Homo sapiens: one gene and its partners. The protein of the gene in region 1 purifies or fractionates together with the protein of each later gene. This does not show direct contact. Each region holds a gene or a part of one and is shown in the gene's direction. Other genes may lie near its edges.

Region 1 (7,022 bases):
GATCCTTTTTGTGAGTTGAGCTGTGGTAAATAACATCACATTTTAGCACGAGGGTTGCCACCTATTAATTCAAACAAGCCAGAGGTCATAGATCTACTTGGTGACTGGTGGAGCTGTGTGGATCTGGTAACTTGGAAGCCATTGTTCACTGCCTCTGCTGATTTGTTGCCACATTTTTCTCATTCATTCTGGACATTGCAGTGGAGGGAGCCACCTCTACTTTTGACTCCTGTCCTTCAGTTTCTCCATCTGCTCATGCGCCCTCTTAACCATGTGGCATGCCACTTTCGTGGTGGCCTCCCCTTTTTATTTGCTGTGGATGACCAGGGCCATCATCCTTTATTCTCTGATGTGGAAACTATTCAAGGGAAGTGAGCAAACTGGGCCAATGGTAGGATGTCATTGCAGAGTGCCAGGATATCCTGATGCTTTGAAGGAAAACCACTGGAGAACTTGGATGCTTTATCATGGTTTTGCCAAAAATATAGCTATTGAGTGGCAGTCACTGTGCTAGGGAATGGCCATCACCTTTTTGTTAGGAAATAATGTTTTATATGCATTTTCAATTGAAGCAAACATACCAAATGGAAGATAATTATATAAATTCACTTATATGATCAACATTTGTAATATCCTGTGCCTTGCTTGGTAAATGGCAAATAAAGATCTCTGGTGCACATTTAAAAGAATGCTCTTTTTTTTTGGGCTCTCTGAAGGTTGACCTGCTCTTTCTTTCTGAACTGCAAGTGCTACATGATATTTCAAGCTTGGTAAGTAGGCTGCTCTAATTTTTTAATTCCATTTATTTTGGTTTCTAGAGAATCCTTGAATAATAGTAAAGGCAGTTGAAAAGTTTGATTAAGTATGCCCTAGATTTATGATCCCATGAAAATTGAAAAATTAGTGGCAATATTGGGAATTTTGAACACATCCATGTTATAGTCAAATTATTTTGCATTTCTGCTTTTTAGGGAGAGACAACATATCTTCCAAGAACACAAGCCTGGGCGTAAGAACACCCTGGCCATAGTCCTAACTTGGCTGTTGATTTCTTGTGAGACTTAATTCCTATCTATATCTTTGGGCCTAAAATAGAAATAATAGTTTGGACTAATAATGCTGTCAGTCAAGTCAAGAAGGGACGAAATCCGTCTGAAGGGTATTTTTTTGGTGAATGATTTTTTAAAAATCATCCTTGTTACTGAAATAGAAATTCTTATCTGTTTGCTACCTTCTGAAGTTGTTTTCCAAACTTTTTCAACAGGTGTTGGTTCGGGGAGTCTGGAAGTGTAGTGCATTCCTGGGATCAAACTGGTCCAGCCATCTGTTCTTTCATACGTTGGCCCATACCTGAGTTTTTAAAACTGAGGAATTTTGTTGAAAGCTTTTATTAAATATCCAAGGAGTCTTGTACTGCTCCTAAACATGAGATTCGTGTTGGATTTATCAGAAACGCTTATTCAAACCAGTTTCTTTTGCCACCATTTTAGACTATTTGCATGTTGTGGTACACTGGTATGGTTTAGTTTAGCCTAGTTTAGTTAGGCATAAAACTTTAACTGGCTGTGTTTGACGTCTTTCATCTTACTTTATCCGCTACCTTTTTTTGTTTGTTTGTTCTCCTAAGCTGTCTCGTCATAAGCATCTAGCCAAGGATCATTCTCCTGATTTATATTCACTGGAGCTGGCAGGTTTGGATGAAATTGGGAAGCGTTATGGGGAAGACTCTGAACAATTCAGAGATGCTTCTAAGATCCTTGTTGACGCTCTGCAAAAGGTAAATATCAATGCGACATGAGAGGTTGGAGTATGACCATTTCACTTTTAGCCTCTTAATAGAAAAATCTGCTGTTTCAAACACTGTTGATTGAACTCTTATTTGCCTTCTTTGGGGCTCCTCTAATTATACTGGCCAAGGATGGAGTAGGGTCAAAAATGTATATTGATATATTTCTTCCTAATGCTAGAAAGAACAGCATTAGGAAAAGTTATCTCACACAAAGCTTTACAAAATTATTGTGGTAAAATATATATAACATAAAATTACCACTTTAACCATTTTTAATTGTACAGTTCAGTGGTATTAAGTGCAAGTACGTTCACATGTTGTACAACCATCACCATCTTCTATTTCTAGAACTTTTTCTTCTTCCCCAACTGAAACTCTGTACTCCTTAAACACTATGAGATAACTGAAGTAGAACACCCAGCACAGTACCAGACAGTAGATGCATAATAAATGCTAGTTCCCCTCTGCCCTTGAAGTTCTTCACCTGCATCCTTTCAGTGAGGCTTCATATTTTAATCTTTATAGATGTTTGTGATTAACCAGAGACCACTTAGGAAGATTTCATTTCTCTTTCCAACTTCCCTTCCTCCAATTTATATGCTGACAAATTCAGTCTCTTCTTAAAGTAATTTTAGTCTAAACATTTGAATATATGTTAAAGCTTAACACTTTTCTGTATAGTTGAGCAAAATCAAAACCTTTAAGACTTGCTTATTGTAAGATGTAGTATATTTCATGAGCCAGGAGGTAAGTGTACATTGTTCTTGTAGCTGCACAAAAGCTTTAAAAATAATTTTAATAAGTATGTATTTGACTCACTGCATAAAATGATAAGTAGGAGGTAATGCATATGTTAATTAGCCAATGTGGACTTAAGCCATTCCACAATGTGTACATATTTCAAAACAATATGTTGATGTGATAAATATATATGATTTTAATTTGTTAATTAAAAATGAAAAAAGTACATAGTTGAGATTCCCAATAATGTTAATAACTAACTTTCAGTTTGCAGATGACATGTACAGTCTTTATGGTGGGAATGCAGTGGTAGAGTTAGTCACTGTCAAGTCATTTGACACCTCCCTCATTAGGAAGACAAGGACTATCCTTGAGGCAAAACAAGCGGTGAGTATATTTTGAGATCCTGCTTTAAAACTGTAAAATTAACTTCTTATAAAAAAAAAAAAACCAAGTCCTATATCACCTAAGGGTGACATGAATGAGCAGTCAGTAAATCTGAAAAACAATTTCAGTTAAAACGTAAGCTTCTTGTTCACATACATATGTGTGCTTTGCCAGTGATGATCAGTTCTTTAGGGTTATAATCAGATAATGCAAGAATTTGAATTAGGGATAAAAGTAAATCTGTCCAAGATTATAATTCAAATATCAGTACACACAAGGAGATATCAGAAGTTAATGTGGCGCCAGGTGCAGTGGCGTGCATCTGTAATTGCAGCTTCTCAGGAGGCCAAGGCAGGAGGATTGCTTTAGCTCAGGAGGAGTTTGAGGCCAGTCTGAGGAAACATAGCAAGACCCTGTTTTGAAAACAAAAAGAAGTGAATGTGTGCGGGAGTGGTGTGGTGCCCACATCCTATGGGCTCTGCTTTTCTAGCAGGCACATTGTCTTTGTGGCGTAGTCCCTCACTTACTGAGATCCTCTGTGTGCACCTCTTTATGATTTTGATTTACTTAACAGTTTTTTTGGGTATGGATCTTGCTTTGATTTTAAGCATTTAGAGGGTCAGGGTTAAGCATTACCATGGTTGCTGGCCATGGTAAAATACATATCTGTTTATGTGTATGTACGTGCACATTTACATACATACATATATACTTACAGCTGCAGCAGAACCTAGGGAGGGTGATGGGAAAGAGTAGTGTAGATGCTCCCTAACATCCTACGTCTGAGAACATTGCTTAGGGCTGGCTGTATCACTTGCAGCAGATAGATATCCACTCAATTACATACACCTCCGCTTCAGACCCATTTGCAGCCCTCACCCTGCTCAGTTTTACTGAAGTCAGTGTGGGACTTGGAGTCGGAAGGTCGAAGCCAGTGCCTGTTTGAGATAGTCTAGCGATTACTGGTTTGAGATTGTTTCTTTCTAAATTAAATTGGGGATGGAAGGACCTTTGTTTCAGACAGCATGTCAGTCTAGACAACCACCCAAGATTTCCCACCATAAAACGTCTAGAAATGCTAGATAAAAATAAAGATCTTTTAAAAAGTACATAGTTTGGGCTGGGTGTGGTGGCTCACGCCTGTAATCCCAGCACTTTGGGAGGTTGAGGCGGGCGGAACACCTGAGGCCAGGAGTTCTAGACCAGCCTGGGCAACATGGTGAAACCCCGTCTCTACTAAAAATACAAAAATTAGCCTGGTGTGGTAGCGGGCACCTGTAATCCCAGCTACTTGGAAGGCTGAGGCAGGAGAATTGCTTGTACCCGGGAGGCAGAGGTTGCAGTGAGCCAAGATTGCACCACTGCACTCTAGCCTGGGAGACACAGCAAGACTCCGTCTCAAATAAAAAAAAAATTACAAAAATAAAAATACATAGTTCAGCTCGCAAGAAAGGGAAATTCTCTTACAGAGTAAATAAAGAAGAGGAGGCCGGGTGCGGTGGCTCACACCTGTAATCCCAGCACTTTGGGAGGCCGAGGTGGGTGGATCACAAGGTTAGGAGTTCGAGACCAGCCTGGCCAACATGGTGAAACTCCGTCTCTACTAAAAACACAAAAAATCAGCCGGGCGTGGTGGCGCACGCCTGTAGTCCCAGCTACTTAGGAGTCTGAGGCAGACAAATCGCTTGAACCCGGGAGGCGGAGGTTGCAGTGAGCTGAGATTGTGCCACTGTACTCCAGCCTGGGTGACACAGTGAGACTCCATCTCAAAAAAAAAAAAAAAAACCGAATGTGGTAAGCAGGCCGCCCTAAGGATATTTGCCAGCTGGGTCACCAAGAGTCCTTTGGTGCCTTGTGTGTGGGGGATGGGAATGGACAACTCCAGATAAAGCTGGGGACCCCGAGAGAGCTGTGCCCTCAGTGAGAGGGTAGACTGGAAATTTTTGCCCACCAGCACAGGGAAACAGAAAGGCACCTGGGCTCTGGGTGGTCAGCACATGTGTTGAGAGTGGGGATGCCTCCCAGAGAATTCTTTTTTTTTTTTTTTTTTTTTTTTTTTTGGATTTTTTGGAGATAGGATCTTACTCTGTCACCCAGACTGGAGTGCAGTGGCACAATCTCAACTCACTGCAGCCTCCACCTCCCAGATTCAAGTGATTCTCCTGCCTCAGCCTCCTGAGTAGCTGGAATCACAGGCATGCACCACCACACCCGGCTAATTTTTGTACTTTTAGTAGAGATGGGGTTTTACCATGTTGGCCAGGCTGGTCTTGAACTCCTGGCCTCAAGTGATTTGCTCACCTCAGCCTCCCAAAGTGCTGGGATTACAGGTGTAAGCTACCATGCCCGGCCTATGAGATTTCTTTTTAGGGTGATAGAAATGTTCTAGAATTAGATTGTGGTGATAACTATGAAACCACTAAAATTCCTTGACTTGTACACTTAAAATGGGTAGGAAAAAGAACATGTTTATCAAAAAAAAAAAAAGGAAAGAAACAAAGAGGTCTTCATGGGCGTGAAATCCTTTAACGTTTGCCTCAGCTCTGAGCTCCCCGCAGGTAAATATGCATGCCTGTGTACCCATTCTCTCCTACATTTGAAATCACTCTCTTCCATTAGTTTAAGGAGACAGGAGTTTAAGGAACATTTACTGAGTACTCACAACATTCCAGGTGCTGGGGCTGTAGGGACAAATAGATCTCGGTTACATTTTCGTTCTCATCCTCACTGCCAGGCACCCTGCCCCCATTTCTCCCACCTCATTTGACTGCCGCCTCCTAACTTGTCTGAACTCATCTGTCTCTCTGCTTCCCAGCTGGCTCCTCCCAAATCCATCCTACACATTGTCATCAAAGTTATCTTTTTTCTTTTCTTTTTTTGAGACAGGGTCTCGCCCTGTCCCAGGCCGGAGTGCAGTGGCGCAATCATAGCTCACTGTAGCCTCAAACTCCTGGGCTCAGGTGATCCACCTGTCTGAGCCTCCTGAGTAGCCAGTTCTATAGGCTTGAGCCACCACACTCAGCTAATTTTTAATTTTAATGTTATCTTTTTAAGACAAACCTGATCATGTCACTCACTTTCTGCCTAAAGCTTGTCAATGGCTCCTTATTGCCCAGAGGCTCATGTCAGATTTTCTGTAGCTTCCCTGCTTCTAGCTTCATCTCCTGCTGTGTTCCTACTTTTAAAATTCTCTAGCCAGAATGAATGATATTTCCCAAACAGTGCCTTTGTCAGAATGAATTCAGTTTCCCAAACAATGTTTTTACACAGCTCTGTATTTTAAAAAAAAGTGTTAAGTGGATCATACATACATAAGTATATAACATATTTAATACTAGTTATTTAAATAATAAAAATAATAACACTGTATAGCTCCGTTTTCATATGGCTATAAAGAGCTACCTGACACTGGGTAATTTATAAAGGAAACAGGTTTGATTGATTCACAGTTCCACATGGCTGGGGAGGCCTTAGGAAACTTACAATCATGGAGGAAGGGGAAGGGGAGGCAGGCACCTTCTTCACAAGGTGGCAAAAGAGAGAGAAAGTGGCACACTTTTAAACCATCAGAGCTCATGAGAACTCAGTATCATGAGAACAGTATGGGGGAAACTGCCCCCATGATCCAATCACCTCCCACCAGGTCCCTCTCTCGACACGTGGGGATTACAAATCGAGATGAGATTTGGGTGGGGACACAGAGCCAAACCATATCAATAGCTTAAGAGAATGCTTGCTTCTTTGAAGCTCCCTATTTTCTCCCTCTACCCTCCCTCATCCAGAGGTAACTGCTGTCCTGGATATCATGTTAATCCCTTGCTTTTCTTTACAGATTGACTGCATATGTATTTGTTCTTAAACAGTGTTGTTTGGTTTTGCCTGTATTTGAATTTTATATAAATTGAATCATACTACATGTATTTTTCTGTGTTCTTTGTTCAGTATTCTTTTTAAGATTCACTCAGGCTGACAAATGTAGCTGTAGTTTAGTCATTTTACTGTTACATATTCTGCTTGTAGGGATATACCACAATTCCATTCTGTTGATGATTTTTTTTTTTTTTTTTTTGAGACGGAGTTTTGCTCTTGTTGCTCAGGCTGGAGT
Region 2 (7,022 bases), on another chromosome or scaffold:
CTGGAAACTAAACGACCTTCACTTGATAAGACCTCTTGTGAGACCAGTCAGTGCAGAGTCAGCCAGTGATAATTGTTCTCTTTAAGGGGAGGCACATGTTTGGGGTACAGTGAACGTAGGTTGGAGCCTTAGTTTGAGCATTGGGAAAGTCAGTGGAATCAAAAGTCTGGTTCAAGTCCCTGCCCTGCCTTTTCTTCACTGAGTAACTTTGAGAAAGTTGTTTTACTTTTCTAAGCCTCATTTTTCTAATCTTTAAGTTAATGTCTAAAGTCCCTTTCAGCTATAGAATTGTCTTAGTGATCTTAGCCCTATGGTAAAAGATTCCAGTATAATTTAAGAATTTGGCCAAATGGTGTTTGTTTGTTTTTGTTTTTTTTTTTTTGTTTTTGTTTTTTTGAGGCAGGTTTTCCCTCTGTTGCCCAGGCTGGAGTGCAGTGACCCGATCTTGGCTCACTGCAACCTCTGCCTGCCAGGTTCAAGTGATTTTTGTGCCTCAGACTCCTGAGTAGCTGGGACCACAGGGATGCAGCACCATACCCAGCTAATTTTTGTATTTTTTGGTAGAGATGGGGTTTCACTATGTTGGCCAGGGTGGTCTCGAACTCCTGACCTCAAGTTATCCACCTGCCTCGGCCTCCCAAAGTGTTGGTATTACAGGTGTGAGCCACTGCACCTGGCCAAAAAAGTTTATTAGTACATGCGATTTTAAAACACCAGTCATATGAAATTATATCCCCTTAAATCACTGTGTCTAGGTTATACTGTGTCTAGGTTATACAACCTTATTGTTGAATTTTATTACCCAAACACTTGTTTTTTTGAGACCGAGTCTTGCTCTGTTGTCCAGGCTGCAGTGCAGTGGCATGATCACAGCTCACTGCCTCAACCTCCTGGGCTCAATCAGTCCTCTCACCTTAGCCTTCTTTGTATATGGGATTACCGGTGTGCCCTACCATGCCCAGGTAATTTTGATATTTTTTTTTTTTTGTAGAGACAGGGTTTCACCTTGTTTCCCAGGCTGGTCTTGAACTCAAGCAATCTACCCACCTTAGCCTCCCAAAGTGCTGATTATAGACATAAGCCACTGTACCACTTACCTTATTTAGAGCATTCTTCCTAAGGTCCTCCAGGTACTTTTCATTAGCTCTTTTTCCTGCCTGAAATACTCTTTCCCCGGAACTTATAACTGGCTCCTTTGGCTGTTCTAGTCTCTTAAGAGAGGCTGTTCCTGATCACCCAATCTAAAGTGAACACCATGTTTGCTTCTGTCATAATTCCTTATTTTAATTTTATTGTAGCATGTACTACTGCATGGTATGACATTTTATTTCTAGTCTTTTTTTTTTTTTTTTTTTTTTTTTTTTTTTGAGACAGGGTCTTACTTCTACATCCTCGAACTGGGCTCCACTTTTTTCATTATTAAATTGTATCTGGCATATGGCAGCAAGAACAGAAATGTCAGTTTCTGCTTGACTTTGGTATTGGGGCTTCTGATGGGGAAAAAAATTGAAACAAGGAAGTGAGGAGACTTCAGTGTAAATTTAGCTTGTCATTTCTCAGGAATCTTACGTATGTCATTTGTTACCTAGTCTTTTACAAATTAATAAAATGATTGCTGTTAGGATCTTGATTGATGATATCAAAACATGTTAATACCACACTTTTAATAGAAAATGTGGTAAATTATTGTGGTATAAAAAATGCAGGCCAGGTGCGGTGGCTCATGCCTGTAATCCTAGCACTTTGTGAGGCCGAGGTGGGCGGATCACCTGAGGTCAGGAGTTCGAGACCAGCCTGACCAACATGGAGAAACCTGTCTCTACTAAAAATAAAAAATTAGCCAGGCATGGTGACGCATGCCTGTAATCCCAGCTACTCGGGATGCTGAGGCAGGAGAATCGCTTGAACCTGGGAGGCAGAGGTTGCAGTGAGCCGAGATCGCGCCATTGCACTCTAGCCTGGGCAACAAGAGTGAAACTTCACCTCAAAAAATAAAATAAAATGCAAAAGGTACAAAAGAATATAGTAGTAAAAAGTAAATCCATATTTTTCATCCAGTCCCATTTATCAAAGGTAACTCTTGCCAGTTTTTGTGAATCCTTTCTAGAACTATTCTCTGCATCTATATAAGCACATTTTTTCCTTACTTTGCATAAATAAGACTGTTATATAGACAGCACATGCCTATATACCTTCGTCTTTTTTAATGACTGTATATCATTCCATCATAGGTGAACTCTGATGTATTTAGCATTTAGCTTGTTTCTCCCTTTTGCTATTACCATAAGGCTGGAGTACCCATCTTTTAAACCTTGCACGTGTTTTTGTACACATGTGGGAATAAATTTGTAGGATAAATTCCGCAAAGTGGAATTGTTGGTCTTGAAAATAATTGCATTTAAAATTTTGATATATATTAGTGGATAGATTTTTAAATCCTTAATATACCTCCAGTGGAAACTAAAACAAAGATATTATTTTAACTTACAAATCAAATAAGTATTTAAACTATGTTGGCATCATAAAATAAGGCTCCTGATAACATTTATGATGATTTAATAAATATTCCAGATATTGATTATAAAATTGTTTCTGTTGTAAATTAATAAACTTTTCATTTATGGAACACTGATGGTAGAAATCTACATTATTGGAAAACCAGTTGTCTTAGTCCATTTTCTGCTGCTATAACAATACTTGAGACTGGGTAATTTATAAAGAAAAAAATTTATTTGGTTCATGGTTCTGGAGGCTGAGAAGGGTGAGGGCCTTCTTGCTGTGTTATCCCATGGCAGAAGGCGAGGGTGAGAGAGAAAGCAAGAAAGGGTCGAACATGCCTTTTTTTTTTTTTCTAAAGGGACAGGGTCAGGTGCAGTGGTTCATGCCCATAATCCCAGCACTTTGGGAAGCTGAGGCTGGAGGATTTCATGAGACCAGGAGTTAGAGGCTGCAGCAAGCTATGATCATACCACTGCAATCCAGCCTGGGTGACAGAGCAAGACCCCATCTCAAAAAATAAGGAGTCGGGCCGGGCATGGTGGCTCATCCCTGTAATCCCAGTACTTTGGGAGGCTGAAGCAGGCAGATCACTTAAAGTCAAGAGTTCGAGATGAGCCTGGTCAGTATGGTGAAACCCTGTCTCTACTAAAAATACAAAAAAATATAGCTGGGCTTGGTGGCATACGCCTGTAGTTCTAGCTACTTGGGAGGCTGGGGTGGGAGAATTGCTTGAACCTGGGAGGTGGAGGTTGCAATGAGTCGAGATCGCGCCATTGCACTCCAGCCTGGGCCTCACAGTGAGACTCCATCTCAAAAACAACAACAACAACAACAACAAAAGGAGTCTTGCTACTATCTTACCCATGCTGGACTTGAACTCCCAGGCTCAAGGGATCCTCCCACTTACACCTGTAGCTGGGATTACAGGTGTACCCAGATGAACTCACATTTAAAACCAACCCACTCCTGCAATAAGGAACCCAGTCTTACCATAATGACGTTAATCCATTCATGGAGGGCAGATCCCAGATGACCCAGTCATCTCTTGATGGTCCCACCTCCCAACATTGTTGCATTGGAGATTGTTTCCAACACATGAAGATTAGGGACATATTCAAACCATAGCATCAGTTAAACCTGTCAGCTACAAATTCTCTATATAGTCTCACTTTCATCACATCAAAGGATAAAGGATAATTTTAACACTGGTGGGGAGGGTTTTTTTTGTCTTTTAAACAATGAGAATAGATGTCTTAACTTTGTTTATGTTTATATAGGGCACAGACCATCATGAAGGCTCGTTTAAAGGGAGCACAGACAGGTCGAAACCTCCTGAAGAAAAAATCTGATGCCTTAACTCTTCGATTTCGACAGATCCTAAAGAAGATAATAGAGGTAGAATGAACTTTTCTTAGAATAGTATTTATTTTAGAAAAATCCAGCATGGCCCTTGGCATTTTTTTTTTTGTTGTTGTTATTTTAATTAATTTTTTTCTTTCAAAAGTAAAAATACCATTATAAGTTTAACAAGTGTCAAATATCAAATAGTTCATTTAATAAAATCCAAACTCTTTAATCTTGCCTGCAAAGCTCCACTTGATCTGATTGGCCCCCCGCCTGCCTCTCTTACCTTATTTAGAGCATTCTTCCTAAGGTCCTCCAGGTACTTTTCATTAGCTCTTTCTCCTGCCTGAAATACTCTTTCCCCAGAACTTATAACTGGCTCCTTTAGCTGTTCTAGTCTCTTAAGAGAGGCTGTTCCTGATCACCCAATCTAAAGTGAACACCATGTTTGCTTCTCTCACAATTCCTTATTTTAATTTTATTGTAGCATGTACTACCGCATGGTATGACATTTTATTTCTAGTCTTTTTCTTTTTTTTTTTTTTTTGAGGCAAGGTCTTACTCTGCAGCCTCAAACTGGGCTCCAGTGATCCTCCCACCTCAGCCTCTCGAGTAGCTGTGACTACAGGTGCATGCTACCATTCTCAGCTCATTTTTTTTATTTTTAGTAGAGACGAGGTCTCACTATGTTGCCCAGGCTAGTCTTTTTGACTCCCGGGCTCAAACAGTCTTTCTATCTTGGCCTCCGAAAGTGCTGAGTTTACAGTTTTTGTGTTTTATTTTTAAACCTGTACGTACTTAACAAAAGCATTTTCTATGAGTGCTGTTTTTATTTTTATTTTTTTATTTTTTGTGGAGATGGGGTCTTGCTTTATTACCCAGGGTGGTCTCAACCACCTGGGCTCAAGTGATCATTCCACCTCATCCTTCCAAAGCACTGGGATTACAGGTGTTAGCCACTGTGCCTGGCCCTGTACTACTTTTGATTATTTGTGAAGTTAAGGAGCTTTTCATGCTTATTGACAATTTGATTTTCTTGGTAAATGTCTTCTTTTTTTTTTTGGTAGAGGTTCTATGTGTATTCTGCCTAATGTGTAAAATGTTAAAAATATTTTTTCCACGCCTTTTCTTTTAACTTAAAAAAAAAAGTTAATACTAGGTGTGGTGACTCATGCCTGTAATCCCAACACTTTGGGAGGCCGAGGTGGGAGGATGGTTTGAGCCCAGGAATTTGAGACCAGCCTGGGCAACACAGTGAGACCTTGTCTCTACAAAAAAGAAGAAGAAGAAGAAGAAAATTAGCAGAGTGTGGTGGCATGCACCTGTAGTCCCAGCTACTTGGGAGCCTGAGGCAGGAGGATTGCCTGAGCCTATGAGTTTGAAGCTGCAGTGAGCTATGATTACACCACTGTACTCTAGCCCAGGCAACAAAGTAAGACCTTGTCTCAAAAAATAAAAATAATAAAAAGTTAAAAATGTTTTTCCTTTGGTCAAATCTGTTGGTCTTTTTCTTTATATAGCTTCTGAGTTACATATAAGGCTTAGAAAAGACCTAAAATGATTAAGAAAATATTATGCCACATTTTCTTTTGTTGCTTTACAGTTTTTTTTCTTTAAACCTTTATCTTAATTATGTCTGAATTTTGGGGGCAGTATGATGTGAGGTAGGTAGCTTTATCATTTTGTACTGTATAGACAGTAGAGTGGTCTCTTTACTAAATTTCCATATAGACCTGGGGTTGTTTCTGAATCCTCTAGTCTATTTCATTGACTTAACTGTCCCAAACCAGATATATTAATATTTCCTTATTGTAGCTGTACCTTTTTAATACTTGGGAAGGCAACTCCCTACCCAGCTGACCCAGTTTTTCTTCTCTTTCTGAAACATTATTGAATATTCTCAAACATTAAATATTCCAGATGTACTTTAAAATTAATACACCATTAGGGTTTTGACTGCAACTGCAGTGAATTTAAGAGATTAGTTTGAGTAAATCAGCATGTACCCATTCAGGAATAATATAGGTCCTTCAGTAAAGATTCAGTTTTCTGTTTCTCAATGCATTTATTCTGTTTTAATTATAAAACTCATAGTTTGTAATATTGTTAGTGATCATAACCAAAACTGTTAAAAATTGGAAATTTCTGTTTGTCGTTATCAAACCAATATTTACATGCACAGCCAGCATAAAATACTGATGGTTATTAAAGGAACATAATTATGATGGAATATTTCCTTGTAAAAGGCTTGGTTGAATCTGCTGTTGGTTTATGCTTTTCCAGACTAAAATGTTGATGGGCGAAGTGATGAGAGAAGCTGCCTTTTCACTAGCTGAAGCCAAGTTCACAGCAGGTGACTTCAGGTAAGGGGACTAAACGGGGTGTTTTGAAGCAAAACAAAGTGATTTCAGTCTCATAATTTCATTTAAAAAGCATTTTTTAATTTAGAAATAAGCGTTAAGGACAAATGATATAGTAATAATAAGAAAGAATTCTTTTAACCCCATCACCTTAACTCCACTGTCATCTTCCACATGTAATTCTTACATAGTTGCAGGCGCAGGATACTTAGTATTTTAGAGTCCATTTTCATTTAACGTTGTATCATAAACATTTTTCCTTATTTTCAACATGGCTGTATGATCTTTCTCAAGATGTATTTTTTTTTTCTCCTAATGCTGGGTATTTGGGTTAATTCTCAGTTTTTTGGAATATTAGGGAAAGTGCAGTGAACATTTTTACACATATGTATTTTTGTTTCTACTGAATTATTCCCGTAGGATAAATTTTTGAGAATTGGATTATTTAAAAGGCATGAACTTCATGGCTTTGGTGACATCAGTAAATCCTTTACAAAGCATACAAAATAGCTTGCAAATGTGTTATGCCAATTTACATATGTTATGTAATTCTCCAAATAACACTATGAGATAGGTAAGGCAAGCATTGTTATTCTCAGTTTTAATTAAATGCCTTCCTGAGGTCACTTGGCTAATTAGGGGCAGAGGCAGAAGTTGTTTTCAAGGTTTCTGATTTTATTATTTTCCTAATGACATGATGCCTATTATCTAGGAGCTTTCACTGCTCTTGGGCCTTAATAAGGCCCTTTGAAGTGGTAGGCTTTCATTTTTGCCAGTGCTGGTAAGATCACAGCTTGCATTGAATTTTCTAGCAGAGGG
Region 3 (7,383 bases), on another chromosome or scaffold:
GTTCCTACTGGTGGGTCTGTCTATGACAGCCCCATCCTGAGTTCCAAGTCCATGTCCTGACTGAGTGGTGAGTGTGCTCACTCGGTGCTCAGGAAGACTCTCTTGCGTGCGGTATTGGTGTAAGGGTGCCAGCGCCACTCCACGTCTGCTGTGGCCTCCTGCTCCAGCGTGCCCAGACGGATCATGTACACTGCAGGCAGGGATGGCATCAGCCCCGGCACAGCCAGCCTCCCCTCCCCACCCCAGACACGGGATTCAGCCTCAAACTCACGCTTCAGCTCAAAGCGGGGCCCGACCTCAGTGAGCTCCACGTTGCGGTGGTCTGTCTTCTTATACACATGGTGCCTGGGAGGGAACAGCTGTGGGTCAACGGCAAGCAGCACGAGGTACACAGGGTGGGGATGCTTTCCTGGGGCATGGCCCGTGGACCCACCGGAATGATATGTAGTCGTCCTGGTTTGCGAAGGTGATGACCCGGTGGCTGTCATCTTTGGGCACGGGAAATAGGTATCGGAGGATGTCAGAGACCTGGGGCACAAGGAAAGAGAGGGAAACAGAGTGGCAAATGCCTGGCCTGGCCCGCAGCCCCAGCCTGAAGGCCCCCAGACTCACCCGCTTGCCCAGGCGGGAGGAGAAGCCGTGTGTGATGAGGTGGGGCTTGGCCTCCGACATGGTGCCCAGGTCTGGGATGTCATGCCGCATGACCACATTGCACAGCGTGAAGTAGGCAGTAGGACCAAAGGGCAGGTGGCTGACGATGAGCCCCACTGGCGGGGAAAGGTGGCTGTCAGAGACCCCGTCTGCCCTCAGACGGCTCCCACCCCGACTCCCTCCCTCCGGCCTTACCAGGTGTGCCCCGATGCTCGTGAACGACCAGCAGATCGGTGACGCCGTTGGCTTTGCAGGCTCGCACCAGTGCCCCCACTTCATGTCGACCTCGGTTCATTCGCTGGGCGCCCGGGAACACCAGCTTCAGCTCCTGGGCGTGGATGGCAGTGTACAGTCAGGACTGGGGCTGTGTGTCCTGGGTGTCTCTCCCTCACTCCCTGCTCACCAGTACCTTTGCAAACATCTTGAGGCGGGAACTGGGGTCTCGGGAGGTAGTGATCATAACCTTGGGATCCTCGACTCCTGCCCATCGGTATTCATCATCCACGTGGCTGGTCACACCTGTCAGGAGCACGAGGGGCAAGAACATGACAGTCTTGGGAATGAAATGCTAACTTCGGGGCAGCCAAGACCGCCTGGATGTCGCTGTCTGCCGAAGCCTTCAACAATAGGAATGCTCCACATGCACACCGGGCAAGAGGGCAGCCTCCAACTACTCTGGCTGCTGAGCACAAGCGTGGCTGAGAAACAGAATCTTTTGTTTAATTGTAGTTTGCTTAAGCTATATTAGTCACATGGGGCTAAGCAGCTACTCCATTACACAACGAAATCCACACTCTGCTAAGGCCAACGGTGACAAACTCTTTTCCCTCGTAACAAATATCTATAATGTTTGGGATTCCTTTCTTGTTTCTTGAATAATGCAGTGAATAAACGTATGGGCACCAATAATGTGTGAGGGACACTGTCTTTCCCCAGCAGGCACTCCAGTGGGGGAGGTAATTAACAAGCCAGGTGCAGAGTCAGTGAGGCACTCCCATGTGTGCCATGTAAGTGGGACAGGGCACACTCAGGGAGAGCCCTGCAATGCCATCTGTGCAGTGACAAGGGCATGGGGGACAGTTCCAGGAGCAGTTTCCTCTGATGGGATGGTGCCCGGTGTGTCTGAGGAAGGACTGGAGACCTGCCAGCTCAGTGTTGGGGAGGGCTACCTTGTATAGTTACCTTCACCTCCAGCATCATCAAACTCCAGGGACCCCTGTAAGGCCAGAGCCTCTCGGCGTAACTCAGTGGGAATCAGGCGGTTTTCTGCAGAGGGAAGAGAGAGGGGCTGAGTGAGTCACAAGCATGGAGACCTCAGCTCATCCAATACACCACAGCTTATTAGCCTGCACATGCTTGAAATAAAAATACCTCAGCCCTTTCTGAGCTTGGATAAAGCATGGATAGAGGTGACAAAACTTTCTACAGGCCAACCCCCATAAACAGTGGTTACTAGGACTTCATTTTCTTTAGTCTCATGACTTGAGGACTTTCTAAAATATCTTAATGTACTGTATTGCTTTTATAATCAGGTAGAAATCTAAACATCGATTTTTTTTTTTTTTGAGACGGAGTCTCGCTCTGTCACCCAGGCAGAGCAGTGCAGTGGTGCCATCTCGGCTCACTGCAAGCTCCGCTTCCTGGGTTCACGCCATTCTCCTGCCTCAGGCTGGCGAGTAGCTGGGACTACAGGAGCCCGCCACGGCGCCCGGCTAATTTTTTATATTTTTAGTAGAGACGGGGTTTCACCGTGTTAGCCAGGATGGTCTCGATCTCCTGACCTCGTGATCCACCCGCTTCGGCCTCCCAAAGTGCTGGGATTACAGGCGTGAGCCACAGCGCTCGGCCTTAAAAATTACTTTTGAAAAGAAATATAGACTGTTCTGTACGTATGATGGTGGACCAGAGACCTTTAAGCTCTCAGACAGCAAAACCGTTGGTCACGATGCCCACAGCGCTTCGAAGGCATGGCTTCAGCGGGCCCTGGACCACAGGCTGCCTACCGCAGAGCACAGCGCTCCAGGTGCGCACTCGGGGCCAGCACTGTTCCCCACGGAGCTCAGAGGAACTCCTGCAGGGAGGATGGGCAGCGCAGTCTGCAGCACCAGCGCTATCCAGATAGTCTTTAGAGAGAATTTCTTTTTTTTTTTTTTTTTGAGACGGAGTCTTGCTTTTTTGCCCAGGCTGGAGTGCAGTGGCAGGATCTCGGCTCACTGCAACCTCCGCCTCCCGGGTTCAAGCGATTCTCCTGCCTCAGCCTCCTGAGTAGCTGGGATTACAGGCGCGTGCCACCACGGCCGGCTAATTTTTGTATGTTTAGTAGAGACGAGATTTCACCATGTTGGTCAGGCTCGAACTCCTGACCTCATGATCCGCCCGCCTCGGCCTCCCAAAGTGCTGGGATTACAGCAGTGAGCCACCGCTCTAAAGAGAATTTCTACAGGACAAGATAAAGTCTTTAAAACTTGGGACGAACTTGACACACTGCACACAGCGGGCAAGCTGCAAAACCCGGGTACTGCAACGTCAGTGACAAGTAATTAATACCATCACACGGAAGAAACACTCTCAAAACCAACAGGAGAACCCAATGGGCAAGGAAAACGGCCGGCAAGCATTTGGAAAGACGCTCGGATATTCGAACACAAATGCGTGCCGGGGTGGTTTACCACGCAGACGCCCGCGGGGCCGATGCCTTACCTTCCAGCGCGCGCCGCAGCCGCTCCTTCCTCTCCTGGGCTGAGCGCTGCGCCTCCTCCCGGGCCTTGCGGTACAGGTACTCGCGGCGCAGGCGGGCCTCGCGGCGCAGCTGTGGGAACAGCAGGCCCAGTCACTCACTACTCGCTCCCGAGCCCCGGAACCCCGGAGCCCCGGAGCCGCTGAGCCTCCAAGTCCCCAGAGCCACATCCCCAGCACTTCACGCGCCCCGGACCTCCGAAACAGGAGCTCATTCTCCTACCATCTTGAGTGCCGCTTCCACGTGGGTCCGGGAGAATCTGTGGGCTCCTCCAGCGCGACACAGTCCTCACTTCCGCCCTCAACCAAGATGGTCCCTTAGACGCTTCACTGGTGCCTGCAGCTGTGGGGAATGCCCTATGTTAAGATGGCGAATAGGGCGGGGACATCTCAAGGCGATTGGCCATTCCGGCAGGGCGTTCTCCTTGGGATAACCGATAGACTGGATACAGAATGTCACACGTGACTTAGGACCGCAGCTAATAAATATGTCCGCCCAGGCTTCTCCATCCTCGTCCTCCCCCCACCACCGCCGTGCAGAATGCAGTTTTCAGATGACGAACCGCTAAAACAATCATAATTAGCGGCTGGAAACAGTTCAACTGTAAAAACCGCACACCGACTGAAGGTTGCTTGCCGGCTCCTTTCCAAATTAACTTTAAAACCACTCTTCCCTCAACCAAAATGGTTTCTGTAGAGCTTCGCCTTCTTCCATCGCCACAACAGTGGCGCGACTTCTAAGATTCGGCAGCTTCCGGAAGGACTCAGAACCACCTATAACCCTAGCCGACAGTTCAGCAGGCTGATCCACTTGGGGGCTAATTGGAGAAACCAGTTGATTGGTTGCTTCCGTGCTGCTTCTCTAAGGGCGCTTGCCCTTAAAGAAGCTGACCCAGAGGCCTTGGTGCTGCCGGCGTGGGGATCCCCAGATGGGAACGCCCCTTGATGGAGGATCTCGTGTGCCTATTGGCTGTCCTGCCAAACTGCGGAGGGTGACAAGGAAGAAGGTGGCTCCAGATCTGGAGGTGTGTCCATGGCGGCGCTTGACCTGCGAGCGGAGCTGGATTCGCTGGTCCTGCAGCTGCTTGGGGACCTGGAGGAGCTGGAGGGGAAACGAACGGTGTTGAACGCCCGGGTGGAGGAGGTAGGCGCCTGGGGCGGGCAGGAGGGTACACGGGCGTAAACTGAGTCTCACCGCTTTCCTCTCCCTGCAGGGCTGGCTCTCGCTCGCCAAGGCTCGCTACGCGATGGGCGCCAAGTCGGTAGGGCCCCTGCAGTATGCTTCCCACATGGAGCCCCAGGTCTGCCTCCACGCCAGGTGAGGAAGCTTCCATGCTGGGCTGGGTGGGCGGGCGGGCGCGTTCTAGGCCCGGGCTGCCAAAGCTCCATCCTCCCTTCTCGTCCTTCAGCGAGGCCCAGGAGGGACTCCAGAAGTTCAAGGTGGTGAGAGCTGGTGTCCACGCCCCAGAGGAGGTGGGGCCTCGCGAAGCAGGTGAGCCCCCTCTTCCTTCTGCAGAACCCCTTCCCAGTGTCAAAGACAAAATGCAAATTATGGAGATGATTTAAATTAGGTTTTTGCGATAAGAGAGAGCATCCCAGAGCAGAAGAACAGAATGTTTTTGTAGGGTGGTTTTGCCTTAGACTTTTATAGGAAGTAGAGAAATTGTTGGTGAGTTGCTTTACACTGGGAATAGATTTACAATCACATACATTTCAGTCAGCTGAACAGAAAATATTTATCTGTGTGTCTAGCTAGTTTCAGAGGGACAAACTTCTAATCCCAGTTAATCATCCTGAGACAAAGAATGGGGAGTTGGAACGTCTATGTCTGGTCTGTTGGCATGTTCAGGTACAATGGGTAAGATCAGTGTCACAGGCAAACAGGGTCATCAGTGGGTCTTACAGGAGTCACGGGAAAGAGTGGACAAACAGTCTCATCTGAATCACAAGGGGAAAGGCTGTGTTTTGTGGTAAGCTGTTTCCTGGAACCCCAAAGTTGGAATTTTCCAACCAACAGTGTTTTATAGAATCATGAGCTCAGATCAAGCTCAACATTGTCACCAAGATGATAAAGGTCAGGGAGTAAGATCCCAGCCTCCTCCAACCTTTCTTTCCTCAGGTCTGCGGAGGCGCAAGGGCCCCACTAAGACCCCAGAACCGGAGTCCTCTGAGGCCCCTCAGGACCCCCTGAACTGGTTTGGAATCCTAGTTCCTCACAGTCTACGTCAGGCTCAAGCAAGCTTCCGGGATGGTGAGTGGACCGTGTTGTTTGGCTCTGTGGCCCTCAGACCCTCTATCCACAGGGAACACTTGAGCACTGCTGCCATGGCTGGGGTTAGTCTGTGAAAGGCTTTGCAGGTTTTCCTCCATCCAAACTTCCGTTGTACACCCATTATTTTTTCCAAAAGCATTTACTGGTTGTTGGCAGCATTCGGGTTCATGCTAGCTGCTGGGGATACAGCAGGGAACAAAAGAGACAAACACTTTTCATGTAATGTTTAGAAGCAGACAAAGGCAACGTGCAAATAAGTAGGCCCTTAACATAAGTCAGGCTGTGAAAATTGTTATGAAAAACACATAATGGAGTGGGACAGGAGTGGGCCAGGGGAGGTCTCTCTGAGGAGGTGAAGGAAAAGCTTTGTGGGTGATTTTGGGGAACAGTGCTCTAGATGGAGGAACCAGCCAGGACAAAAGCCCTGAAGCCAGATATATCTGGTATGTGCCGAGGCCGGTGGCCTAGAGTGGAGTCAGGTGATGTAAGCCCTGATGAAGACTGTGGGACCCACAGAGAGGCTCTGAGCAGAGGATGGTGCAACTGGCTGTACAGGGTCACAGGAATGCTTGGGTGCTGGGCGGGGACACAGAGCAGAGGGAGGAAGTAGGTGTCAGGGAGCAGCCAGTGTGAGAAGCAGATAGCGTCACTGGAGGAGGAGGTAAGTGGTGGGAACCTGCACAGGTTTTAAGAATAGAAGCCCCAGAATTTGCTGACAGATAAGATATGGGAGTAAGGGAAGGAAAGGAGTCCAGGAGAGCCTGCGGTCTCCACCCAGAACCCCTGGGAGGATGGAGCGACCCTCACCTGCTGTGGGCAGCTGAGAGGATTCCAGAAGGCAGGAGTTGGTGTGGTCTGTGTGGTATCCACCGACGCCCTGCTGGAGAGTCTGAGTGGGCACTTGGGCACATGTATCTGGAGTTTGGGAGAGGCCTGGGCTGGAGAGAGATTTGGGAGTCCACTGCATAGCACTGGTGTTTAAATTCCAAAGTTTTTGACACAAACACTGGTTTAAAGCTGAGATAGGATGAGATCAGCAGAGGGCCTGGGGAGTATGGACGGGAGGTGAGGGAGAAGAGGGGAGAAGCCAGTCAAGGAAACTGAGGAGCAACACCTGGGGGCAGGTGTCCTGGAGGCCAAGAAGAGAAAGTGTTTCCTGGAGCGAGTGATCCAATGTGTGGTCAGCCCTGCTGCTGAACAGGAGGCCGAAGACGAGAGCTGCCCGGAGGACTGGGCAGCAGCTGTTCCAGCAGAGACATCAGCAAAAGCCATCTAGAGGTGGATCCAGAGTGTGGACTAACAGAGAAAAGAAGTGGAGGGAGAGCAGGTGAGGGCAGAGAGATGCTGTAATAATGGGGGAAGGAAGGAAATGAGGGCATGAAATGGTATTACTATCTGTGAATTTTTAGTTCCTGGTGGGTGATATAATGGGTCCAGGAAGTCTAAGGAGGTGACATTTTAGCAAAGACCTGAAGGAGGTGTAAGGCCTCAGAGGTTCTGGAGCAGCCAATGCAGGGCCGTACCTGGAATGTTTTGGGACAAGTGTGGGGGGCAGAGAGGCCTGAAGCCTTTCCAATTTCTGGGGATATCCAGATCCTCCTGGGTCGTGTGTTACACTACAGATACCATGGTGACCTTCTCTCCTTTCCTCCAGGCCTGCAGCTGGCCGCAGACATAGCCAGCCTCCAGAACCGCATTGACTGGGGTCGAAGCCAGCTCCGGGG
Region 4 (7,756 bases), on another chromosome or scaffold:
AAATGCCAGGAGGAGCAGAGGGAGGAGAATGAGCATTTGTTGGCTGGTTCCATGTTCTCTTTTTTTTTGAGACAGGGTCTCACTTTGCTGCCCAGGCTGGAGTGCAGTGGTGTGATTACAGCCCACTGCAGCCTCAACTTCCTGGGCTCAGGTGATTCTCCCACCTCAGCCTCCTGAGTAGCTGGGACTACAGGCATGCACCTTGCCTGGCTAATTTTTTTTTTTTTTTTTTTTTTTGTAGAGACAGGGTTTCACAATGTCGGCCAGGCTGGTCTAAAACTCCTGAGCTCAAGACATCTGCCTTCCTCAGCCTCCCAAAGTGCTGGGATTACACGTGTGAGCCAATGCTCCCGGCCCCTGGTTCAGTTTTCAAAACTCTCCCTCATTCCCTGCTCGCAACAGCCTTGCTAATTAAACAGTATTGCCCCATTTGCAAAATGAGAAAACAGACCCAGAGAAGTGAAGCAATCTGCTCGACGCCACACAACTGATGCAGAACTACAGTAAGGGAGGCAGCATTGGAACCCAGCTCTAACCCTCCATTTGCTGTAGTCCAAGGAGAACCTCAATGGTGATGTACTATGAATAGAAAAAAAAAACAAAACCTTGAGGCCAGGTGCCATGACTCACGCCTGTAATCCCAACACTTTGGGAGGCTGAGGTGGGAGGATCCTTTGAGACCAGGAGTTCAAGACCAGCCTGGGCAACATAGACCCGTCCCTCCGCCCCCACCCACCTCCCGTCTCCACAAAAAAAATTAGGAGGGCATGGTGGTGTGCGCCTGTAATCTCAGCTTCTCAGGAGGCTGAAGTGGGAGGATCACTTGAGCCCAAGAGGTTGAGGCTGCAGTGAGCCGTAATTGTACCACTGTACTTCTGCCTGAGTTACAGAGTAAGACTCTGTCTCAAAAAAAAGGAAAAGAAAAAACCCCTTGGGCAGTGGGAGTCCCATGCCCAAAAGTCATTTTAAGTCAGGAGGGGGAATCAATCTTGGAGGCTGCTGGCCTCTCTGGGAGAAAGGATTCACTCTGGCAAAGCCTGCCCTCTCCTCCTTTGGTATCTGTTTCCTGTTCCCTTCACCAAATTGCTGAAACTTGAACCCTGCCCAAGCTTCATGGAGAAAGGGGGCCTGTCTCTTTAACCAGTGGTGGCTGCCGTCCAGATGTTACTTCTGGTACGTGCTGCACGTGCTGTGGACAGTTAAAGGCGCAGGACTCAGATTTCTAGGGAAGGTGTAGAAAGGATAGCTGGCCTGGAGGGCAGCTGCCCGGTGACATGAGGGGCTTTTCTCATTTTCATCCTTTTCTTTTATTCATTTCCTTTTTTGGCCCCAGGAAGAGCAAGGGCTTCGGTAGGATGGCCATATTCTGTGCTGCTAGATGGATGATCACCTCTCACTAGCACTTAAGCCTCCCTAATAATAATAATAGTAAAAATAAATCATAATAAAATGTCCTCTTTCTTTTTTTTTTTTTTTTGAGACAGAGTCTCACTCTGTCTCCCAGACTGGAGTGCAGTACCTTAAGGCTGGGCACGGTGGCTCACGCCTGTAATCCCAGCACTTTGGAAGGCTGAGGCAGGTGGATCATCTGAGGTCAGGAGTTCCAGACCAGCCTGACCAACATGGAGAACCCTGTCTCTACTAAAAATACAAAAAATTAGCCAGGCATGGTGGCACACGCCTGTAATCCCAGCTACTCGGGAGGCTGAGGCAGGAGAATTGCTTGAACCTGGGAGGTGGAGGTTGTGGTGAGCCAAGATCGTGCCATTTCACTCCAGCCTGGGCAACAAGAGCGAAACTCCATCTCAAAAAAAAAAAAGCCTAAACCTCAGCATCACACAATATCCCCTTGTAATAAACCTGCACATGTACTCCCTGAACCTAAAATAAAAATTGAAAAAAAAAAATAAAGAAGGTTAAGTGTGGTGGCTCACACCTGTAATCCCAGCACTCTGGGAGGCCAAGGTAGGAGGACTGCTTGAGTTCAGGAGCTCAAGACCAGCCTGGGCAATGTGGCAAAAACCTGCCTCTCCAAAAAATACCAAAAAAAAAAAAAAAATTAGCTGGGCATAATGGTGACGGCCTATAGTTCTAGCTACTTGGGAGGCTGAGTTGGGAGGATCACTTAAGCCTGGGAGATGGAGGTTGCAGTGAGCTGTGATCGTGCCACTGCACTCCAGCCTGGGCAACAGAGTGAGACCCTCTCTCTAAATAAATAAATAAATAAATAGGACTGGGGGTGGTGGCTCACACCTGTAATCCCAGAACTTTGGGAGGCCACGGTGGGCAGATCACAAGTAAGGAGTTCCAGACCAGCCTGGCCAACATGGTGAAACTCCATCTCTACTAAAAATACAAAAATTAGCCAGGTGTGGTGGCAGGTTCCTGTAATCCCAGCTACTCGGGAGGCTGAGGCAGGAGGACTGCTTGAACCCAGGAGGTGGAGGTTGTGGTGAGCCGAGATCGCGCCACTATACTCCAGCCTGGGCAACAAGAGTGAAACTCCGTCTCAATAAATAAATAAATAAATAAGGCAGGCGCAGTGGCTCACGCCTGTAATCCCAGCACTTTGGGAGGCTGAGGCAGTTGGATCATCTGAGGTCAGGAGTTTGAGACCATGCTGGCCAATGTTGTGAAACCTGGTCTCTACTAAAAACACAAAAATTAGCCAGGTGTGTTGGCTGTAATCCTAGCTTCTTGGGAGGCTGAGGCATGACAACTGCTTGAACCTAGGAGGCAGAGGTTGCAGTGAGCTGAGATTGCACCACTGCCCTTTAGCCTGGGGGACAAAGTGTGACTCTGTCTCAAAAAAATAAAAAATAAAAAAAAATAAAAAAAATAAAAAAAATAAAAATGGTAAGCAGACTGTAGGACCACCTGGACAGTTCCTTCTAAAGGGCACTGGCCTCAGCAAACATTTCTGTGTCTGCTCACAGCCCACCAGAGGCCACCTCAAATGACCGTTTAATTTCCAACAACTGGGAAGCACTGTCTGGCTTTGGAATGTACTGAAACCAAAGTGGAAACAATCACCCATTGTCTGCCTCTGTGCTTATATTGAATTTTTTTCCCAAAATACAAAGCAATATTTATCTTTTGCATCGATGATTCACAATTTAAAGCCATTTTCAAAGTATGAGACGTTAGTGTCTTATGTTATTTAATAAGTTAAAACTTAGGACTGACATCAAGAAGACGATTTGGTGTAGTGGAGACATTGATGGCCCTTGGCTGGATTTGTGTCCACGTGTGGTGTGCATGCAGCTAGACAGGTCTGTTAACAAAATATTTTTGGGGAAGTCTAGTTTCTGGTGGTTAGTTTTTATTTTATTTTTTATTTTTTTAGACGGAGTCTCGCTCTGTTGCCCAGGCTGGAGTGCAGTGGCGCGATCTCGGCTCACTGCAACCTCTGCCTCCCTGGTTCAAGCGATTCTCGTGCCTCAGTCTCTCAAGTAGCTGGGATTACAGGCGCCCACCACCACGCCCAGCTAATTTTTGCATTTTTATTTTTTTATTTTTATTTATTTATTTTTTTTTTTTTGAGACAGAGTCTCCCTCTGTCACCCAGGCTGGAGTGCAGTGGCGCGATCTTGGCTCACTGCAAGCACCGCCTCCCGGGTTCACGCCATTCTCCTGCCTCAGCCTCCCGAGTAGCTGGGACTACAGGCGCCTGCCACCACGCCTGGCTAATTTTTTATATTTTTAGTAGAGACAGGGTTTCACCGTGTTAGCCAGGATGGTCTCGATCTCCTGATCTCGTGATCTGGCGGCCTCGGCCTCCCAAAATGCTGGGATTACAGGCGTGAGCCACCGTGCCCAGCCTAATTTTTGTATTTTTAGTAGAGACAGGTTTTCACCATGTTGGTCAGGCTGGTTTCGAACTCCTGACCTCAAGTGATTTGCCCATCTCAGCCTCCTAAAGTGCTGGAATTACAGACGTGAGCCACCACTCCTGGCCTCTGGTGGTTCCCCTTCCCCTCCTCCTCCCTTTTCCTTTCTTCTTCTTTCTTCCTCTTCTTCTCTCTCCTTTTTTTTTCCTCCACTTTTTCGTATTGTTCCAAGTGTTTTTTTGCAGTGAGGATAGTCTTTTTTTTTTTTTTTTTTTTTGAGACAGAGTCTCACTCTGTCGCCCAGGCTGGAGTGCAGTGGCGTGATCTCGGCTCACTGCAAGCCTGCAACCTCCGCCTCACGGGTTCAAGCAGTTCTCCTACCTCAGCCTCCTGAGGAGCAGGGATTACAGGCATGCGCCACCACGCCCGGCTAGTTTTTGTATTTTTAGTAGAGATGGGGTTTCACCATGTTGGTCAGGCTGGTCTCAAACTGCTGACCTCGTGATCCGCCCGCCTTGGCCTCCCAAAGTGCTGGGATTACAGGCGTGAGCCACCGCGCGCGGCGAGAGGATGGTCATTTTTACAGAAACAAAGTTGTTGTGTGTGTGTGTGTGTATGTTTTTAAATTTTGGGGCTGTTGAATCCATCAGTAGCAAAGGGGCCCAACACGTGTTCGGTTTGGCTGGCTCGATGTTTTTTTCACGAGTGAATTGGATGCTTCCAGTCCTCCCCAGACCCCTGCACTTAACTCCACTGGACTTCACTCTTCCGGCCTGGGAACGAGTGGTCCCGCCCCCGGCAGCTTTTGTCCCGCCCTCGCCGTGGCTCCGCCCCCTTCTCTCCGGCCTGCTCTCTCTCCTCCCTCCGCCCTCCCGTTTTCCATCTGTCGTAAAAGACACGGCGACGCTTGACCGCCGGCGTCGTTTGACGGCTGGAGGCCACCGAGAAGAAGGAGGAAGCAGGGGTGGCGGCTGCTGCGGCGGTTGCGGCGGGGGCCGGGGTGGGCGCCGCGGTCCGGGCCGGGCAGTGAGGCGCGGGCGGCCGGGCCGGTGGGCTGGGCGGCGGGCCCGGCGGCCGCCCTCGCACCCTTGCCCGCGCCTGGCGGCCCGATGTGGCTGCAGCAGCGGCTCAAGGGGCTGCCGGGACTGCTGTCGAGCAGCTGGGCCCGCCGCCTCCTCTGCCTGCTTGGCCTCCTGCTGCTGCTTCTGTGGTTTGGGGGGTCCGGCGCGCGGCGGGCGGCGGGCGGCCTGCACCTGCTGCCCTGGTCCCGCGGTGAGCCGGGCGCCGCCGAGCCGTCTGCCTGCCTGGAGGCGGCCACCCGCGCCTGGCGCGGCCTGCGGGAGCGCGGTGAGGTGGTACCGCTGGGTCCTGGAGTGCCGGCCCTGGTGGCCAACGGCTTCCTGGCCCTGGACGTGGCTGCCAATCGGCTGTGGGTGACTCCCGGGGAGCGGGAGCCCGCCGTGGCGCCGGACTTTGTGCCCTTCGTGCAGCTGCGCCCGCTGAGCGCGCTGGCTGAAGCTGGAGAGGCGGTGCTGCTGCTGCGGGAGGGGCTTCTGCGCCGCGTGCGTTGCCTGCAGCTGGGGTCCCCAGGTCCTGGCCCCGTGGCCGCCGGCCCCGGGCCCGCCTCCGTCTCTGGCCTTGCCGCGGGGTCCGGCCGCGACTGCGTGCTGCTGCAAGAGGACTTTCTGGCGCACAGGGGCCGACCCCACGTCTACCTGCAGCGCATCCAGCTCAACAACCCCACGGAGCGCGTGGCCGCGCTGCAGACTGTGGGGCCCACTGCCGGCCCAGCCCCCAAGGCCTTCACCAGTACCCTGGAGAAGGTCGGAGACCATCAGTTCCTCCTCTACTCAGGCCGGTCCCCGCCTACGCCCACTGGGTTGGTGCACCTGGTGGTGGTGGCCGCCAAGAAGCTGGTGAACCGCCTCCAAGTGGCTCCCAAGACGCAGCTGGATGAGACGGTGCTGTGGGTGGTGCACGTCTCTGGCCCCATTAACCCCCAGGTGCTCAAAAGCAAAGCAGCCAAGGAGCTCAAGGCGCTGCAGGACTTGGCACGGAAGGAAATGCTGGAGCTCTTGGACATGCCAGCGGCGGAGCTGCTTCAAGACCACCAGCTCCTCTGGGCTCAGCTCTTCAGCCCAGGTGAGTCCTGGCCAGCGCTTGGTCCACCCTAGATATGTCCCTCCCAAGTCTGCAGAGGTGACACTGAAGGTGATGGTGGGGTGGTTGAAACTTGGGCTTGGCGTTTCACCAGTGGTTGAATCTGCTCAACTGCTTAGTGTCTGTGCGACCTTTGGATTCGTCGCCTAATCTCTCTGGGCCTGTATTTAATAACAATAACGCCTACCTCAGAAGGTTTTTATGAGACTGTAGTGGACAATTGAGTGTAAAGGTCAATTCTTTCTGTTACTTGTTTTGGTAGATGGGGCCTGATGTGAGCAGAGTGAAGTGTTTTAGAGTCAGTTTGCAGAGGTGAAACCAGCAGGTGGATCCCCTGATTCTTTGCTCAGCACCGCAGTCGGCCTGGTGACAGACGTGGGCTTCTTGACATAACCCCTGCTAGGCTGAGGTGCGTCCTGGCAGTTGTGGCTGCAACTGGTTCACAGGGAGGTTGGAGAATCCCTTTTAGCAGGTTGAGATGCTCCCGCCCGATGAAAACTCTCCTCTCGTTGACTGTTAAAGAAAAGAAAATCCTGTTCTGGATGAGAGAGGGGTTTTGGTTTCCAGGGTTCCAATTGTCTGAACCTTTGTGTTTGGTTGCTCAGAGAGTTGAGTTCATTCAGCAAGTATCTATTGAATGCTTCTGCCAGGGCTGTTCTATGCATGGGGGGGTGCAGATGGGAACCAGAGTTCCTGTTCTCATGGTGCTTGCTTAAATTCTGGTTGGGAGGAAGACAGACATTAGAAAAGTGAAAATTAAAATTAAAATAAGGCATCTTTTTAGGCTAGAATGTGCTGGCTGGGCGCGGTGGCTCACGCTGTAATCCCAGCACTTTGGGAGGCTGAGGCAGGTGGATCACCTGAGGTCAGGAGTTCAAGCCAACCTGGCCAACGTGGCGAAACCTTGTCTCTACTAAAAATACAAAACTTAACCTGACCTCATGATCCGTCCACCTTGGCCTCCCAAAGTGCTGGGATTACAGGCGTGAGCCACCGCGCCCGGCGAGAGGATGGTCATCTTCACAGAAACAAAGTTGTGTGTGTGTATGTTTTTAAATCTTAGGGCTGTTGAATCCATCAGTAGCAAAGGGGCCCAGCACGTGTTTATTCAGCAAGTGTCTATTGAATGCTTCTGCCAGGGCTGTTTTAGGCATGGGTGGTGGCCTGCACCTGTAGTCCCAGCTACTCAAAGGCTGAGACGGGAGAATCACTTGAACCCGGGAGGCGGAGGCTGTAGTAACCTGAGATCGTTCCACTGCACTCAAGCCTGGGCAACACAGTGAGACTCTGTCTCAATAAACAAATAAATACATACATACATAAAGCTACAAGACTGGAGAGAGAAAGGACAGAGAGGAGAAGTGGCCTGAGACTGGCCTCAGCACTGGTGACTGATCTGGCGCAGGATGTCTGACCATAGGGTTGGTGCCAAGTCCTGGCTAAGTCTGTGTTCCTCTGGGCTCTGGCACCAGGCCCCGCTGCTTTTTAACAGGATTCTAGATTTCAGGCCCACAGGCTCAAGTTGGTCGTGTAAACAAGACAGGCTGACTTTCTTCTATACTTTAGGGAGATGGGCACCACTGTCTTTATCATTAAGGCACAACACCTCACTCTTCTGCTGCCCTTGGTCTTTATTTCGTATGCTCTGCCTCCCAGCTGTCCTTCCCCCTTAACATGCCGCTTTCATGGTGTTGCAGGAGTGGAAATGAAGAAGATCACTGACACCCACACGCCGTCTGGCCTCACCGTGAACCTGACGCTCTATT

Evidence for each region.
Region 2: the proteins of ATP6AP2 (region 1) and ATP6V1D purify together in Homo sapiens (affinity purification with mass spectrometry; 4 studies listed by BioGRID and IntAct, with this or other methods). This does not show direct contact.
Region 3: the proteins of ATP6AP2 (region 1) and VMA22 purify together in Homo sapiens (affinity purification with mass spectrometry; 5 studies listed by BioGRID and IntAct, with this or other methods). This does not show direct contact.
Region 4: the proteins of ATP6AP2 (region 1) and KIAA2013 purify together in Homo sapiens (affinity purification with mass spectrometry; 4 studies listed by BioGRID and IntAct, with this or other methods). This does not show direct contact.

What each region holds. Positions count from the first base shown.
Region 1 is NC_000023.11:40,597,965-40,604,986, forward strand, and holds part of ATP6AP2 (renin receptor precursor), read left to right. Parts: intron 1-716; coding exon 717-770; intron 771-1,627; coding exon 1,628-1,777; intron 1,778-2,797; coding exon 2,798-2,917; intron 2,918-7,022. UniProt on the Homo sapiens protein: Multifunctional protein which functions as a renin, prorenin cellular receptor and is involved in the assembly of the lysosomal proton-transporting V-type ATPase (V-ATPase) and the acidification of the endo-lysosomal system.
Region 2 is NC_000014.9:67,349,795-67,356,816, reverse strand, and holds part of ATP6V1D (V-type proton ATPase subunit D), read left to right. Parts: intron 1-3,776; coding exon 3,777-3,894; intron 3,895-6,126; coding exon 6,127-6,206; intron 6,207-7,022. UniProt on the Homo sapiens protein: Subunit of the V1 complex of vacuolar(H+)-ATPase (V-ATPase), a multisubunit enzyme composed of a peripheral complex (V1) that hydrolyzes ATP and a membrane integral complex (V0) that translocates protons.
Region 3 is NC_000002.12:130,339,163-130,346,545, reverse strand, and holds the start of VMA22 (vacuolar ATPase assembly protein VMA22), read left to right. Parts: upstream 1-4,412; 5' UTR 4,413-4,420; coding exon 4,421-4,531; intron 4,532-4,601; coding exon 4,602-4,705; intron 4,706-4,796; coding exon 4,797-4,879; intron 4,880-5,506; coding exon 5,507-5,638; intron 5,639-6,783; exon of another isoform or gene 6,784-6,986; intron 6,987-7,313; coding exon 7,314-7,383. Other genes in the region: U3 small nucleolar ribonucleoprotein protein IMP4, read right to left, coding at 78-190, 272-345, 434-767, 847-979, 1,061-1,170, 1,834-1,917, 3,352-3,460, 3,611-3,613. UniProt on the Homo sapiens protein: Accessory component of the proton-transporting vacuolar (V)-ATPase protein pump involved in intracellular iron homeostasis.
Region 4 is NC_000001.11:11,923,421-11,931,176, reverse strand, and holds the start of KIAA2013 (uncharacterized protein KIAA2013 precursor), read left to right. Parts: upstream 1-4,749; 5' UTR 4,750-4,939; coding exon 4,940-5,972; intron 5,973-7,687; coding exon 7,688-7,756.